Linked DNA regions of Homo sapiens: region 2 is linked to region 1. A link means that fine-mapping ties the variant in region 1 to the expression of a gene that starts in the linked region. Tissue or cell type: minor salivary gland. Region 1 holds a variant in brackets; the other region holds the start of a gene. All regions are shown on one strand. Distances are from middle to middle.

What was found. PIP is the estimated chance that this variant, and not a neighbour inherited with it, causes the effect.
Region 2: it holds the start of SAR1A, and the variant in region 1 is fine-mapped to the expression of SAR1A in minor salivary gland (GTEx, PIP above 0.99).

What each region holds. Positions count from the first base shown.
Region 1 is chr10:69,339,556-69,347,555 of GRCh38, reverse strand. HK1 (hexokinase 1) reads right to left here. Exons shown (of 18, transcript NM_000188.3): 2 at 3,567-3,729. Among named protein-coding and RNA genes, the nearest start is that of HK1, 25 kb to the right of the region's middle. RefSeq lists a silencer at 2,552-2,681 and enhancers at 3,286-4,139, 7,728-8,000. The variant T/A (reference allele first, on the strand shown) is at 4,298.
Region 2 is chr10:70,166,354-70,174,353 of GRCh38, reverse strand. It overlaps SAR1A (secretion associated Ras related GTPase 1A), which reads left to right and starts at 3,840. Exons shown (of 7, transcript NM_020150.5): 1 at 3,840-3,941. RefSeq lists enhancers at 3,346-3,425, 3,559-4,215, 4,216-4,874 and a silencer at 3,556-3,915.

The sequences.
Region 1 (8,000 bases):
GTTGAAGCCGGAGAATTGCTTGAACCCGGGAGGCGGAGGTTGCAGTGAGCCGAGATCATGCCACTGCACTGCAACCTGGGCGACAGAGCGAGACTGTCTTAAAAAAAAAAAAAAAATCTGTCTCCTATTCAATTTCCAAAGAGAACCGGTACTGGTTAATCTCTGTTCCCTGATATCTTCATTCTCCCTAGTAATCATTTACTGTTCCCTGTCTCCTGCCTCCCCTCTGAAAAGAGGAAATGTGTGGCCGGGCGCAGTAGCTCACACTTGTAATCCCAGCACTTTGGGAGGCCGAGGCGGGTGGATCACCTGAGGTCAGGAGTTCGAGACCAGCTTGGCCAACATGGCAAAACCCCGTCTCTACTAAAAATACAAAAATTAGCTGGGCATGGTGGCAGGTGCCTATAATCCCAGCTACGTAGGGGGTGCTAAGGCAGGAGGATCGCTTGAACCATCGTGCCACTGCACTCCAGCCTGGGCAACAGAGCAAGACTCCATCTCAAAAAAAAAAAGGAAAAGAAAAGAGGAAATGTAAGTATCTGGGCCCCACCGGGATACTTGAGTAATCAGTCTGTGATTCTCCCACATGCATGTTAATAAATGTGTATGCCCTTTCTCCTATTAATCTGCCTTTTGTGAGCTGATTTTTCAGCCAACATTCAGAGGGCAAAGGGGACGTTTTCCCTTGCTCCCTACAGTAGCTTTGAAGAGGGAATTCTATTTAGCCAAATCACCAATGTTAAGAGGCTTCAATATTTTCCTTCTTTATTATTCATTCATCCACTACCTCAAAAATGATATGCAGCAGCAAAAAGCCACTTTAGGTTTTTGGGGTTTTTTTAATGATATACAGATTATTGAAGAACAACTAAAAAATAAAAATAAAAACAGGCCAGGTGAGGTGGCTCACGCCTGTAATCCCAGCACTTTGGGAGGTGGGAGGATCGCCTGAGCCTAGGAGTTCAAGACCAGTCTGGGCAACATGGCAAAACCCTATCTCTACAAAATACCAAAAACAAAAACCTCACTGCCCATTAAAAAAAAAATGACCAAAAAAGAAAGAAACTAATTAAAAATGGGCTGATAGGTATCAGAATGTATGTATCAGATATGTTTTCAGAAATGCTTCTGGAAAGTCAGTTGAGTTCCAAAACTCTGTGTCTAGTCGACCAGGGTCAAGGTCAGCAAGAAAGGAAAGGCTTGTTTCCTTCCTTTGCCTTGGAAATCACATCACCACTTAGGCATTGCTCCACCATGGTGAGCGCCAATTTATCCCTCCGTGGTTTGGGATTACCACTAATTCTGTCACTAATTACTACAGTTGAAGCAGTGATTAACATTTCAAAAAGGGAACAGCACTATGGATTTACTATTAAGAGACCCAGATTCTGATTACTGCAGGGATCTCCTGATTCTTGGATGATAAAGGAGCCAAGAGGCAGGGGGAGGTGAAGACAGAAGCCCGGCACAACACGAAGGGGCAGGAAGTGGACTGGGGGTTGGGTATCCAAGTCCTTAGCATCAACAGCAATGTCTTTGCGGGGCTGTAGGGACCATTGCAAGCGAAGTGTGGGCTCTGGGGCACATGAACTGAACCCACCCATAAATATTTGGAATGGGGGGGTGCCGTTTCTATGAATCTCTAAAAGGGGGTGAAAAATACATTTCACAAATGAGTATGAGTTCTAAGCCTTGTTTGGAGGAGTAGCCAATATGGCAAATGGCTGGATTTCTACTGCACTTGGATCACACCTTGAGACTCTCAATCCTGGAAACAGTTTGTGAAGGAGAGGGAGAGCACCCCTGCTGACATAGGTCCCTGGGACACAGCTGGCTTGAGAGCAGGGCCCAGTGGGTAGGAGGCAAAGTGTCTCCTCCCCTGTGTCTGCCCTGAGCCAGTCACACAGGGCCAGGTGCCTCGCAGGGATCAGGTAGCCTTCTGAGCTCTCCCAAGCAAAGCCAAAGCAGGTGCTCTCCTGGGTGCTGCCCATACCCCCTCCCCTCCCCGCTCCTTCCTCTTCTCTCAGCTGGAAGCAGTCAGAGCCATGCCTCTGCTACATAGCTCTCCTCATCCTGGAAAGGTTCCAGTGCTCCTGGCTGTAGGTGACATCCATGGCTGGGAAAAAGCAAGAGTGAACTATATATAAAGTTCTTTCTTCTCCAGCCAGAGACAAGCGAACACACCCAGGGTAGACCACAGTCTATTCACTCTGATGGCCAGAATCTCTTCAGTAGTTCTTAAAAAGCTAGAAGTAGGTGCTAGTAATCAACACCTAAACAAAAGGGTGGAGGTGGAGTAGGCTTACATCAGAGATATACATGCTAATATGTGAGCATGAAGTAGACCCCACCCGTGGCCACAGTGAACAGCACAAGGCCTCTTTATCAGCGTCCAAATCTCATTCAGGATGACTGCAGGCAGAGAGCAGAGGTCTTTTCCTGCTGCAACCAGCCTACTCCCACTTGCCCATCTTTCAAGAACATCAGTTGCAACAGCTGCAGTTTCCTGGCGTCCATTTTGCAGGCTGCATACAAGATGCCCCAAATCACTCCTTTAAATAAGAGCCTCGAGAGCAGGGAAGAAATCGCAGGGGTGTGTGAAAGCTGTACTCACTGGTCGTGTACTCACAACCCCAAGGGAAACCTGACTTCCTCCTGCTCTCCCTCCCTCTGCTGCCTACAGCAGGTGAGCCCCACCCTAGAGCACAGAACACAGCTAACAGGGGATTCCTGTGAGGGCGCCACGCTGGAGCAAGCACAGCATTCACCTCCACAAACTAGTAACTGCGGGTCTGCCGGGAAGAACAGCTTCCACTGAGCAGGCCAGACTGCGACTTCTCAGTCTCCGCTCAGCCAGGTGCAGGGGCTGATACCACTCCTCTGGGGAGGAGAAACAGACAATCCTCAGGGGGCCCTCCCCCAACGCCCCACTGCAGGGTATGAGCCACAGGATGCAGAGTGAAAGGATACAATTTTTCTTTCAATTCTACCTCCCCTCTGTATTTCTTTGTTTTGGGGGCTGCCTCAATTCTGCATCTGTGAAATCTGTCCAAAGGGGGTCTGGAATCTCTGCCTTTAAGTCTGAGACCCACCTGTCCATTAGGATTGCTATTATCTGGGATAAGAAGAGAGGGAAGCTTTGATTCCCTGATGGAGAGATTTCCCTAAAATGAACCCTTCATTTGTTCTGGAGTTCTTCATGTTCTGAAGACATAAGAGCAACCCACACAGTATCTGCGAGACCCATAAACACTACACTTTCTAAAGTATCACAAGCCACTAGACAGTAAAGTCAATGACAGCAGGTCAGCCTTGCCCAACCATGGTATCCCCAGTGACTGGCATAAGGTCTCAGTAGACACATATTGGATGGATGGATCAGCGGATGGATGGATGGATGGATGGATCAGCAGATGGATCAGCGGATGGATGGATGGATGGATGGGAGAGCAGATTGATGGAATGGTGAATGAATGAATGAGCAAATGTATGAACAAATGAAGTTAGAAGGAAGATTTCACAGAACATTTAGCCCTCAGGGTTCAATCTCTGGGTGACAGACTTACCAGAGCCATCAGGAATGGACCTTACGAATGTTGGCAACATCTTGACTGTGGCTGTTGGATTAAAATCCCGGGAGAGGCCATTCTTCATCTCCTTCCTGAAGCGAGTCATGATATCTATGAGAGTTTCATCGGAGAGCCGCATGGCATAGAGATACTTGTCAATCTGGAGGGGGATGAGAAGGAAGGAGAGTGAGGTCGAGGGGGAGGACAGGGCAAGGTGAGGCACCCACCCGCTGAGATAGCCAGCTCCCACAGGCACAGGAACACGCACGCTGGCACATCGCATGGCGGAAGGTCATTCAACTGCTGTCATCCATGTCACCCAGAACAGGCTTGCAAATGCTCTGAGCCCTAGTTCCTGGCCTGTAAAATGAACCCGATATCTCTAAGATCCTTTCCAACCCTCAAATATGACATGGAAGCTGCTCTTCAACCCCCAAGTACTTGATGGAGGTAGGTTTCCTCCAGTATCAGGAACACCTCAAGCCTCCTTCTCTCTCTGAGAATTGGCTGGCTCACTCTCACTGGGATGGGAATGACAGAGAGGCTACGAACAAGGGCTCTGGAGCCAGCCAACTGGGTTCAATCCTAGCCCCAGAGCTTAACAGCTGTGTGAATTTCAGTTTCCTCAACTGAAAAACTGAGATGATAGATAGGACCTAACATATAGGACAAGTTCAAATGAGACACAAGCACTTAGAACACAGTAACTGCTCAATAAACATCAGCTA[T/A]TATTATTAACATGAGACAGTAGTACTGGCAGGTGTCCATGGGCAAGACTTCTAGAAAGACAGAAATGGCGGCCAAAGGGCTAGGACCCTTCTGAGAACACAGGGTGGCAGGCCCAGAGCACAGAAACCTTAAACCCAGCCTCAATGAATGGAGACAGCCCCTGGGCTCCCATACCCATGTGCCGGGCCTGTGTGCCAGGCCATGGGCCCTGCACCTCCGAGTCAAACTACTCCCACCCTTCACCAGGCCTGACCCAACCTGCTCCTCTTCCTGAGTTCCCCGTTCTCCTCAAGCTGCCCAGGCTCCTAACCTTAGGCACCCTGGGTTGTCACTGGCTATCACTAATTGTTTGTCCTTCATGGCATCTTCGCATTTATTCTCCCAAAAAAGGATTCACTGGGCACCAGCTAGGTGCCTAGAATTGAGCTAGACACCTGTCCTGATGGCACTATCCCTGTAGAGTCCACCGAGGAAGGTTCTTTTGTTTCACCATCCACTCTTTCTGCTGCTCTGTGTGCCTGGATTGCTGATGATCCACTGTAACAGTTTATCTTCAATCTCTTCCTTCCAACCCATCTTCTACACCACTGCAGCATCAGCCTCTTAAAGTGCAACCCTAATCAAGTCATGCCTCTGCCCAAAGCCTTGCAATGCCTCCCCACTGCCAAGGCACCTACCCTCTGCAGGTGTGGCTCTGTGCTCTCTGAACTCCGGCCAAACCACCTCTACCATTCCTAGTAGGTGCTCCAGGCTCTCCTCCTTCTGCTGTCACCTCTACCTGAAATGCCCTTCCTTTTCTTCCCAGCTCACCTAACCTTCAAGGTTCAAATCAACTGTCACTTCCTCCTGAAGATGTCCAAGTCCTTCAGGCTGGATATCACCACTCCTTCAGCACTGACCCCTAGGCAGGGTCTGGTCTGGATCCCAGCTTTCCATGCGTGTCACCCTGACCTCCCCAGTGCCTCACATGGAGCCTTGCACACAGAAGGCTCCCACTGGATAGAGAGACAGATTTACAGCCCCACAAGGCTGAAAAGACCTTAACACTGGTGTTTTTTCCTTTGTTTGTTTGTTTGTTTGTTTGTTTGTTTGTTTTTGGGGTTGGTTTTTTTTTCATAGTCTATCTCTGTCACCCAGGCTGGAATGCAGTGGCAGAATCTTGGCTCACTGCAACCTCCACCTCCCAGGTTCAAGCAATTCTCCTGCCTCAGCCTCCTGAGTGGCTGGGATTACAGGCGTGCGCCACCACGCCCTGCTAATTTTTGTATTTTTAGTAGAGACAGGGTTTCACCATGTTGGCCAGGCTGGTCTCAAACTCCTGACCTCAAGTGATCCACCCACCTAGGCCTCCCAAAATGTCTGCCAACACTCTCTGCGCCCAAGGATGATCCTTGCCCCCACTCCTAACCACTAGCCCTACCACCTTTTTCCCTTTACAATAAAGCAGCTCAAAGAAGGGCAATCAGGAACCACCAAGAGCCAGAATAGAAATTGCCAGAAGAGGCCAGGCATGGTGGCTGACACCTGTAATTCTAGAACTTTGCAAGGCCAAGGCAGCAGGATCATTTGAGCCCAGGAGTTCGAGATTAGCCTGGGCAACAACCCTGTCTCTACAAAAAATAAAAATTAGCCCAGCATGGTGATGCACACCTGTAGTCTCAGCTACTCGGGAGGCTGAGGCAAGAGGATCACTTGGGCCCAAGAGGTTGAGGCTGCATTGAGCCATGATTGAACCACTGTACTCCAGCCTAAGTGACAGAGTGAGACTGTCTCTAAAAAAAAAAAAAATTAACAATTGGCCAGGAGCAGTGGCCCACACCTGTAATCCCAACACTTTGGGAGGCTAAGGCAGGCAGATTGCTTGGGGCCAGGAGTTCGAGAGCAGCCTGGGAAACTTGGCAAAACCTCGTCTCTAAAAAAATACAAAAATTAGCCAGGCGTGGTGATACGCCCCTGTAGTCCCAGCTACTCGGGAGACTGAGGCGGGAGGATTGCCTGAGCTGGGGAAGCAGAGGTTGCAGGGTGCTATGATCCTGCCACTGTACCCCAGCCTGGGTGACAGACTTAGATCCAGTCTCCAAAAAAAAAAGAAAGAAAGAAATATGTATATATATTTTTTAAAGGAAATAAAATTGCCAAAAACATGGCCCTGGGAGGAGAGACAAGCCATGCCCTATTCTGGCTGGTGGCATTCATCAGCAGCCCTTGCCATCATAGTGCCCTGGGTCTGCAGGGAGAGACAGCCACGTTGCAAGCATGGGAGAGAAGGCTTCCTGGAGAGGCGAAGTTGGAGAGCATGCCCAGGCACAAGCAAGGGCATGTGTGAAGTCCGAAGGGGAGGGAGGGTGGTTTTTGTGATGAACAAGCAGACGGTGTGCCTGGAAAGACTGTCCAGAGCTCAACCACACAGGGCCTGATGAGCCACATAAACAAATACAAGCGGGATCCCACAGCACAGCGAGCCTTGGGACGGCTTTACTGATTACAACCATGATGAGAGTTGTGTGTCTGCTGCGTGGAGAATGGAGGAGCAAGCGCAAGATCATACAATAAAAGCTACATTGCTAGCTGGCACAGTGGCTCATGCCTGTAATCCTGGCACTTTGGGAGGCCGAGGCAGGAGGATTGCTTAGGCCCAAAAGTTCAAGACCAGCCTGAGCAACATAGTGATATCGCACCTCTAAAATATTTTTTAATTTTAATTTTAAGGCCGGGAGCAATGGCTCATGCCTGTAACCCCAGAACTTTGAGAGGCCGAGGCGAGTGGATTACCTGAGGTCAGGAGTTCAAGACCAGCCTGGCCAACATGGTAAAACCCGGTCTCTACTAAAAATACAAAAATTAGCTGGGCATGGTGGTGCATGCCTGTAATCCCAGCTACTCAGGAGACTGAGATATGAGAATCGCGTGAACCCAGGAGGTAGAGAAGATTGCAGTCAGCCAAGATCGCGCCATCGCACTCCAGCCTGGGCAATGCAGCAAGACTCCATCTCAAAAAATTTTTTTTAATTTTAATTTTAAAAAAGGTACATTGCTACTCCAGCATTTTGGACACGCCCCAACGACCACACTCCTCACACATCATGATTATCCTTTTACCAAGCTGTCCATCTCCTATGATACTGCGTGAGTTCCCCAGGGAAAGAAAACATATTGAATAGACCTTTGGAACTCACCCAGTTGCTTGACACAAAGGAGGAATTCAAACAATGCTGGATCCTGGAATAATACTATATAATTCTCTTGTGGCTTACAGTATATCAGTATATCAAGATCCAGTATGTCATTTAACCTTCAAAACTGTCTGGGAGATGTTCTTAATCCCCATTTTACAGACACAGAAACTGATGGTCCAAGAAGCTAAGTGATTAGTTCAAAGCACACAGCTGGGGGAGTGAGGTTTTATACCTGCAAGTCTAAGGCTCCTCCATACAATCATCCCTGCCCCTTAAGAAAGACTGGTCCCCTGCTCTGCAGAAGGCAGATCCAAGTAGAGCTGTTGGGGTTTTCCCGCTGGACAGGAGAAGCTTCTAGAAAAGGCAGCTCTCCATAACTCCACAGCTATCCTGCCTTCTAAGTCAAGGTGCAGCTCAGCACACAGACATTGATCCAAAAACCCCAACGTTTCAGGACAACCAAGCTAAATCCAAATAAAGCTTAGAAGCTCAAATCAAAAAGCAGGCTGCAGACACAGAGAACGGC
Region 2 (8,000 bases), 830 kb before region 1:
CAAACAGGAAGTTCATGCTGCTCGCTATGCCGGAAGTAATAACATAGTTTGTCTCTGATCCAGGAGTCCTGTGACTGCCAGCATCTGAGACTGTGTCAGGCTAACCTGTTAACCTGCAAGTTAGGTAGAACCCCAGAACCTCCACAGTTCTGACCACAAACACCTCACCCCATTTCCTACCACTCCTTCTGTTGCTCACCTTGCCTGGTCACACTGGCCTCCCAGATGTTCCTGGAAACTGCCAGGCACACTCCTGCCTTAGGGCCTCTGCTGTCAGCCTGGAACAGTCTACCCTGACAGCCATGTAATGTCCTTCATGTTCTTATCCAAATAGCACCTGGGTGGGGCCTTTCTTGACTTCTGTATTTGATTTAGTTAATTAATTAATTAATTTAGAGACAAGGTCTCGCTCTGTTGCCTAGGCTGGAGTGCAATCATGGCTCACTGTACCCTCAACCTCCTGGGCTCAAGCGACCCTCCTGCCTCGGTCTCCCAGTGTTGGGATTACAGGCATAAGCCACCATGCCCAGTCTGACTTCTCTATCTGAAACAGCCTTCCCACCAATAAACTGGTGAACTTTTGCCAATCTGACAGGTGAAAATGGTATCTCAGTAAGTTTCAAATTTATCTTTTATTTTTTAAAATCTATTTCTATTTCAGTATAGATATAACTATACAGAGATACATAGACAAATAAATGGATTTATATATTTTCTATATCTATTATTCTATAATATCTATATTTATATTTTCTATAGTATCTATATTTCTATTACTATTTTATTATGCTTGAGTCATTTTTGGGCCAGGCGCAGTGGCTCATGCCTGTAATCCCAGCACTTTGGGAGGCCTAGGCGGGCGGATCACTGGAGGTTAGGAGTTTGAGACCAGCCTGGCCAACAAGGTGAGACCTCATCTCTACTAAAAATACAAAGACCATGTCTACTAAAAATACAAAGATTAGCCGGGCTCGGTGGCTCATGCCTGTAATCCCAACTATGCAGGAGGCTGAGGCAGGAGAATCGCTTGAATCCTGGAGGCAGAGGTTGCAGTGAGCCGAGACCGCCACTGTACTCCAGCCTGGGTGACAGAGTGAGACTAGGTCTCAGAAAAAAAAAAAAAAAAGAAAAGTCATTTTTATTTCCTTTCCTATGAATTATCTGTTCTGAACTGTTGCCTATTTTCCTATTGTGTTGTTAGTCTTTTTCATACTTCTTACTTGCCTATGATGTGATTATTTTTCTCAACTTGTCATTTGTCTGAGTTTGCTTATGGTGTCATGATTGTTGTTATGCCATATAAGTTTTTAATTTTTATGTAGTTAAATTTGTCAATCTTTTCTTTTATGGCATCTACATTTTCTTTTCTTTCTTTTTTTTTTTTTTTTTTGAGATGGAGTCTCAGTCTGTTGCCCGGGGTTGGAGTGCAGTGGTGTGATCTCGGCTCACTGCAACCTCTGCCGCAGGGGTTCAAGCGATTCGCCTGCCTCAGCCTCCCAAGTAGCTGGGATTACAGGCGCCTGCCACTACGCCTGGCTAATTTTTTGTATTTGTAGTAGAGATGGGGTTTTACCATGTTGGCCAGGCTGGTCTCGAACTCCTGACCTTGTGATTCGCCAGTCTCAGCCTCCCAAAGCGCTGGGATTACAGGCATGAGTCACCACGCCCGGTCTAGATTTTCAATCATACCCAGAAAGGTCTTCTCATTGCAAAATTATAAGGAATCCATGCTTTCTTCTGTTTTTCTAGTACCTTTATAGTGTCATTTCAAAATACACACATCTTTTCATCACTTGAAACTTGTTTAGAGTAATAAACTTTTGGAGATTCAACCTGTAGGTTTTTTTGACTACCCAATTGTCTCAACCCCTTTTATTATTTATTAATTTATTTAACAACACATAACAGAATCATTTATTGAAAACAGTACTCTGGAAAAACTATGTGCACAACAATGCCTGTTTCACCCATTTTACAGTGGGTACATGGTGGTCTGGGGCATTCGTCAACTTGCTCAAGCCTTTAGGTAAGTAGAGTTTGCGGCTTTTCTGAGAATCTGCCTGCATGTTCCCTCCTTCCCCAGCCTCCCAAGCCATCCTGTGGTTCAGACACCTCCACCTCGTGCAGCCAGGCTCTCAACAAAGCCAGTAATCCAATGTGTTGGCTTGCACTGGGCTTGCATCTGTGTCTCCAGGATGCACAAGGGGTTCCAAGCCCCATGGACACATTGTCCCTGGTTTAGCTAAAGCTGGTGAGAAGCCTCAGAAGTGGCCTGACACCTTTCTGTGACAGGACAGGGTTCAAATTCAACATCTAAGACCCCAGGATGAGCGGAGGGTAGAGGGTGGTGAGCTTGCCCACTCAGCTCCCTGAGTATTGCTGGAGTCCCAGGTGCTACTTTAGTTTTATTTCTGCATGTACTTTAGTCATTTCTGTACTTTGCTCTGTTCCATTGTGTTTTTTGTGTGTGTGTGTTTGTGCATGTGCACGCACACCAGTTTTAATAACTTAGGCTCTATAATATGTTTTAATATCCAACAGGGTTAGTTCCCACCTCCTTGTTCTTCATTTTGAAAGCCTGTTTCTGGACTAGTTTTGTTTGGTTTTCTATACGAATTTTAGGAACAAATAGGGTAATTAAAAAAAAAGAACGAAACCACACACGACCTATTAATCCTATTAGTACTTTTATTGGGATTATGTTAAATTTAAATTTTACTAAAGGAGAATTGAGATCTTCATGAACCCACAGACGTCATTCATCTTTCCATTAGACTGTTTTATTTGTAAAATGAGAGTAATAATAGTACCAATCTCGTGGGACTGTCCTGAGAATTAAATGAGAAAATGCATGCGAAATATACTGGGGTGAACACGTTGCTTTGCCACTTAGCTGTGTGAACTTGGGCATGGTAGGTTATTCTGAACATTGCTCTCTCATTTGTCAATAAGGATAATACTAGCATCTGGAGTCACAGGACTCCAATGACGGTGAAATTAGACAAAGCGTGCAAAGTACCCAGTGCTCTGCCTGGAACATAAGTGCACAATAAATATTAGCTGTTTTTCTGTTTTTCTAAAACATAGGCCACCCCAGGGCAAGGAAGTGCGACTCAAAGCAAAAGCAGCTGGGCGCGGTGGCTCACGCCTCTCATCCCAGCATTTTGGAAGGCCGAGGCCAGCGGATCACTTGAGGTCAGAAGTTCGAGACCAGCCTGGCCAACACGGTGAAACCTGTCTCTGTAAAAATACAAAAAAATTAGCCAGGTGTGGTGACATGCGCCTGTAGTTCCAGCTACTCGGGAGGCCGAGGTATGAGAATCGCTTGAATCCGGGAGGTGGAGGTTGCAGTGAGCCGAGATCGCGCCACTGCACTCCAGCCTGGGCGACAAAGTGAGACTCCGCCTCAAAAAAAAAAAAAAAAAAAAAAAAAGCAAGGAAGAAAAAAAGCAAAAGCTTGGAGGGATCCACCTCAAGTGGAGGGCCCCAAGGTCAACTCATCTTTCCCAGGACCTATGTCACCGTCGGTACCCACTTCTGACTTTCCTGGTGCGTCTGGAATGGGAAGCCGCGATCCCGAGTGTACCAGGCCGCTCAGGGACTCCAGGACCCAGCCCCGGACCCAGGGTTCCGGCGCTGCCACGTCTCGCGCGGTCAGCTAGCCAGACGGGAGCAGGCGGGGCCGAGGCGGGGCCAGACCCCGAGCGCGCTTTGTCACGCCTTATGCCCGCCCCTCCGCGGCCCGAGTCGCTGGTGGGACGGCACCGGGGCAGAGAGGCGTAACGCTGTGAGGGGGCGGGGCCCATTACGCGCCCGGAAGTCCCGGGGAGGGGTGTGACGTACATCCGGCGAGTAGCTGGCGGTCCCGGGTGCTGCTGGTTAGTGTGCTCTGAGGGAGGGTCCGAGCCAGCCGCTGTTTTGCCGGAGGAGCCCCTCAGGCCGTGAGTCTGAGGGTCGCGTCGGGGAGGGGAGTTGGGGCTCGAGGGGCTGGGACGGAAGGCGGGGAGGTCGGAGCGGAGGCTGGCCCTGGCGGGGTTGGGTGGGGGGGAAGTGACACGCAGGCGGTTCTGTGGGGCCGCGGGGCTGATTCTGGGCGGGGACGGGACAACTTGGCCAGATCTGCTCCGTCCCCTGCTGTCCTCTTTGCCTGGGGTCCACTTGCATTCCGCTCGGGGGTCTCGCAGCTGCTGGGCCGGATAACAGTTTCTTGTCTGTACCGTGCGCTCCGGTTTACGAAATGGCTCCATGTCCTCTGTCTCGGAAGAGCCTCACAGCCCTCGGTGAGGCGGGTGGGAGCCCTTTATGATTATCCTTGTTTTGTAGACTCGGAGACTGAGGCTGGCCAAGGCTCCGCAGTTAGCGAGTGTGAGCGCTCGAACCTGGTCTACAGGCCCCTAGTCCAGGGCTTACCCCCAAGTCAGCGCTTGGTTGTCTTCCGATGGCCCGGGTCGAACCCTGTATTTTCTCCTTCTCCCTTCCCCTTTTCCCCTGTCTGGTCTCTGCATGGAAAAATTTCCTTATGTGCATTTGACATGGATTAGCGTTTTCTTCACGATTCTAGCCAGTGGGTCAGGAGCATCTTTGTCTTGTTGATTCCATCGGCTTCGGTTGCGACAGGGGGCTTAGGGAGATTCGCCATGGGGCTGACCTTTGACATTTACCCCGCAGCTAAGCAGAGTTAGCTAAAAGCCAGCCGCCTACTACCCCAAATCTGCCTGGAATGGCGTCTTAAAGTTGCCCTGATTATGTATAACAAGTAATGCGTAAATTTTTAAATTGGCTAATGGTCAGATTGGTGCCCTCCTTTTCTATTAACATTTGTTTGAATCATTTAGCCCTGGAATTCGCAAGTTTTCATTTTAGGTACATTAATAGTGTTTTGTTGATAGTTTAGAGACCTACCTTAAATTTTAGATTACTCTTAACTTCTCGTAAGGTGGTACAATGGACCAAGAATAGAAAATAAATAGAATGCTAGTTATTAAAATACCATTCAAAAGATGTGATGAGTTGTAAGGAAGAGAACTTCGGAAGATCATCCTCTGTGTAGTTGGTGGGTTAAAGAAGTTTTAGTTTTTTTTTTTTTCCCCAGCAATTTTGTGGTTTGGGTTTGAATTTTATGTACTGTTAACAGGAAGAGCTTAGGCTTTGGTGTTAGAGATGAGGGTTTAAGCCCTGGCACTATTACTTTTTCAACTGAGCCGTCTTAAAGGACTCAGCAAAACTAGGAGTATCCTCATCTTTATCTTGTTAAATGAGGCCAGTGATCCTTGCCTGGTAGGGTTGGTGTGGGGATGAAATGAGATGTACAAGTACTGTGCAGATTGTAAAACTACTGATGAGTTGGTACAAATCCTAAGATCTTAAGGAGAGAGGAGCCACCAAGGCCATTTTCAGCTGCTGAGGAGGCTGAGGTGGGAGGATCTCTTGAGCCTGGGAGGTTGAGGCTGCAGTGAGCCATGATGGCAACACTGCACTTCAGCCTTGGAGACAGAGTCTTGGTCTGTCTTAAGAAAAGGGGGGCGGGGGCATTTTCTTAACTTTGGGTAGCAGTGCAACCCGACTCTTTGGATCTAGTAAGGGTTTTTATTATTTTTAGCTCACCTGAAGAGTTTCTTCAGTCAGCCTCCACTCTCATCACTCCTTTACAACCCAACACTTCTATATACATTTGTACTACACTGGTTTTCAGTCAATACTTTACAGACTTGTAAAAAATGTTTACATCACTTTAGAAATTTTTCTTTCTTTCTTTTTTTTGAGATGGAGTTTTTGCTCTTGTTGTCCAGACTGGAGTGCAATGTCATGACCTCGGCTCACTACAACCTCTGCCTCCCGGGTTCAAGTGATTCTCCTGCCTCAACCTCCCGAGTAGCTGGGATAACAGGCGCCCACCATGCCTAGCTAATTTTTGTATTTTAAGTAGAGATGGGGTTTCACCATGTTGGCCAGGCTGATCTCGAACTCCTGACCTCAGGTCATCCACTTGCCTCGGCCTCCCAAAGTGCTGGGATTACAGGCATGAGCCAAGTATTTTCAACTAGATGAATTCTGCAAAGGTGAAAAGGAGAAAATGCCACACTTTAAATAGTTTTTCATGGCAATTGAACTACTTTAATTTTCCATTTTATTTTCCTTTGACACTCCTGCTTTTAAGCCATCTCCTCCCTTGGAGCATACAAATCAGCAGCAGCCGGGATTTAGCTACTTGGATGCTTTAATTCTTCCCTCCAAAATGATCTGAGTGGGAATGACCTTAATGAGGGGTGTGCTCTAAAGGTGAGCTGTGCTTCTCCAGGCAGTAGATTGAGAAAAGTATAGGAGGATGTTTGGTTTGAGGGAGTTGCAGAGGAAGGGCACATTGTTCTTTTACTTATTTACAGTAAATGGGAATTTCAGCACAGGAGCTTTATTAAGTATATTTAAGTTGTTGGACTCCTTAAAGTGCGGACTCAATTTCCAGAGAAAACTATTAGTTAATGTGATAAATGCAGTCTTTCTGCTGAAATATATTTGTTATTGAAAAGGCAAAAAAGAAATCACCTCATTTAGTATTTTTTCGTAAGAGCCTAGTATGTATCCACCCAAACTGCCAAACTTTATTTGGCTGTCTTTGGTAAGGGCCGTGAAAAATAAATATTAATTAGGCCCTAAAATTTACAGATTAGGCCATGGGCCTGATAAAAACCCAGTAATTGGATGAAAAACATACCAGCTCTACTTTTCAATTTACTCTTTTTTTTTTTTTTTTGAGATGGAGTCCTGCTCTGTCACCCAGGCTGAAGTGCAGTGGAGCGATCTCCGCTCACTGCAACCTCTGCCTTCTAGGTTCAAGCGTTTCTCCTGCCTCAGCCTTCTGCATAGCTGGGATTACAAGCAAGCGCTGCCGCGCCCAGCTGTTCATTTTATTCTTCATCTGGCATTCTTTGAATGTAAGGGGATTTTTTTGTGGGTAATGCTTTTACTGGTTACTGTTCATGAAAATTTTGAATGCAGTTGGTCATATCTAGTATAAAGCCCTGTGTTCAGATGCTCCTGCTGATGGAGAGGAGTAAAAGTGTGGACCTTCCATTTTTCTGCACCGCATCTGAGATACTAAAGCAAAAATTCAGCATGGCCAGACAATGCTGAGAAACCTTAAGACCCACCAGTGTGTCTAGATCCTACCCTCTTAATTTCATTCAGAGGTCATTTTGCTTATTACCAATATATGTAAACCTTTTAGTAGCTTTTGATAGCTATGAGAAACAATAGAAAAAGTAGTGTTAATATCAGTACCAGTTAAGTTATTTACTGGCTTGGGAACTTACTGCTATATCCTGAAAAGTATTCTTTTTTTGCTTTTTTGTTTCTTGAGACAGGGTCTTGCTCTGCCACCCAGGCTGGGGTGCAGTGACACAATCATAGCTCACGGCAGCCTCAAATTCCTGGGCTCAAGCAATCCTCTTGCCTCAGCCTCCCAAGTAGCTGGAACTACAAGCACGTGCCACCATGCCTGACTAATTTTAATTTTTTTTTTTTTTTTTTGTAGAGATGCAGGTCTCTCTATGTTACCCAGGCTGGTCTTGAACTCCTGAGGTCAGGGAGGAATCCCCCACCTCAGCCTTGCAAAATGCTGGGATTACAGGTGTGAGCCACGGGGGCCCGGCCTGAATAAGTATTCTTATTTTAAGAAAATCTATTTGTAAAATGAGTTTGGGTGTGATTATTCATGTATGAAAAGATTCTCTTCTTATCCCTTAATGGTTCTCTAAAATAGTGATGTCATTTCTTTTTATAAATTGAGACCCGTGTCTGCAAAAATGATTAAATATTGAGATAACATTGGTAAATGGAGCAGGGCAAGTGGTGCTGGCCAGTAGAATTTTGGGTGACTTTTGTTTTTTAGAGTTGTTTACAGGATAGATTAATATGTTTTTCATTCAAATCAATGTGCTTTTCATTCTTATTTTCTATTTAGTGCATCTAAGTGGCATTCTGATTCACATTATTGATAAGAC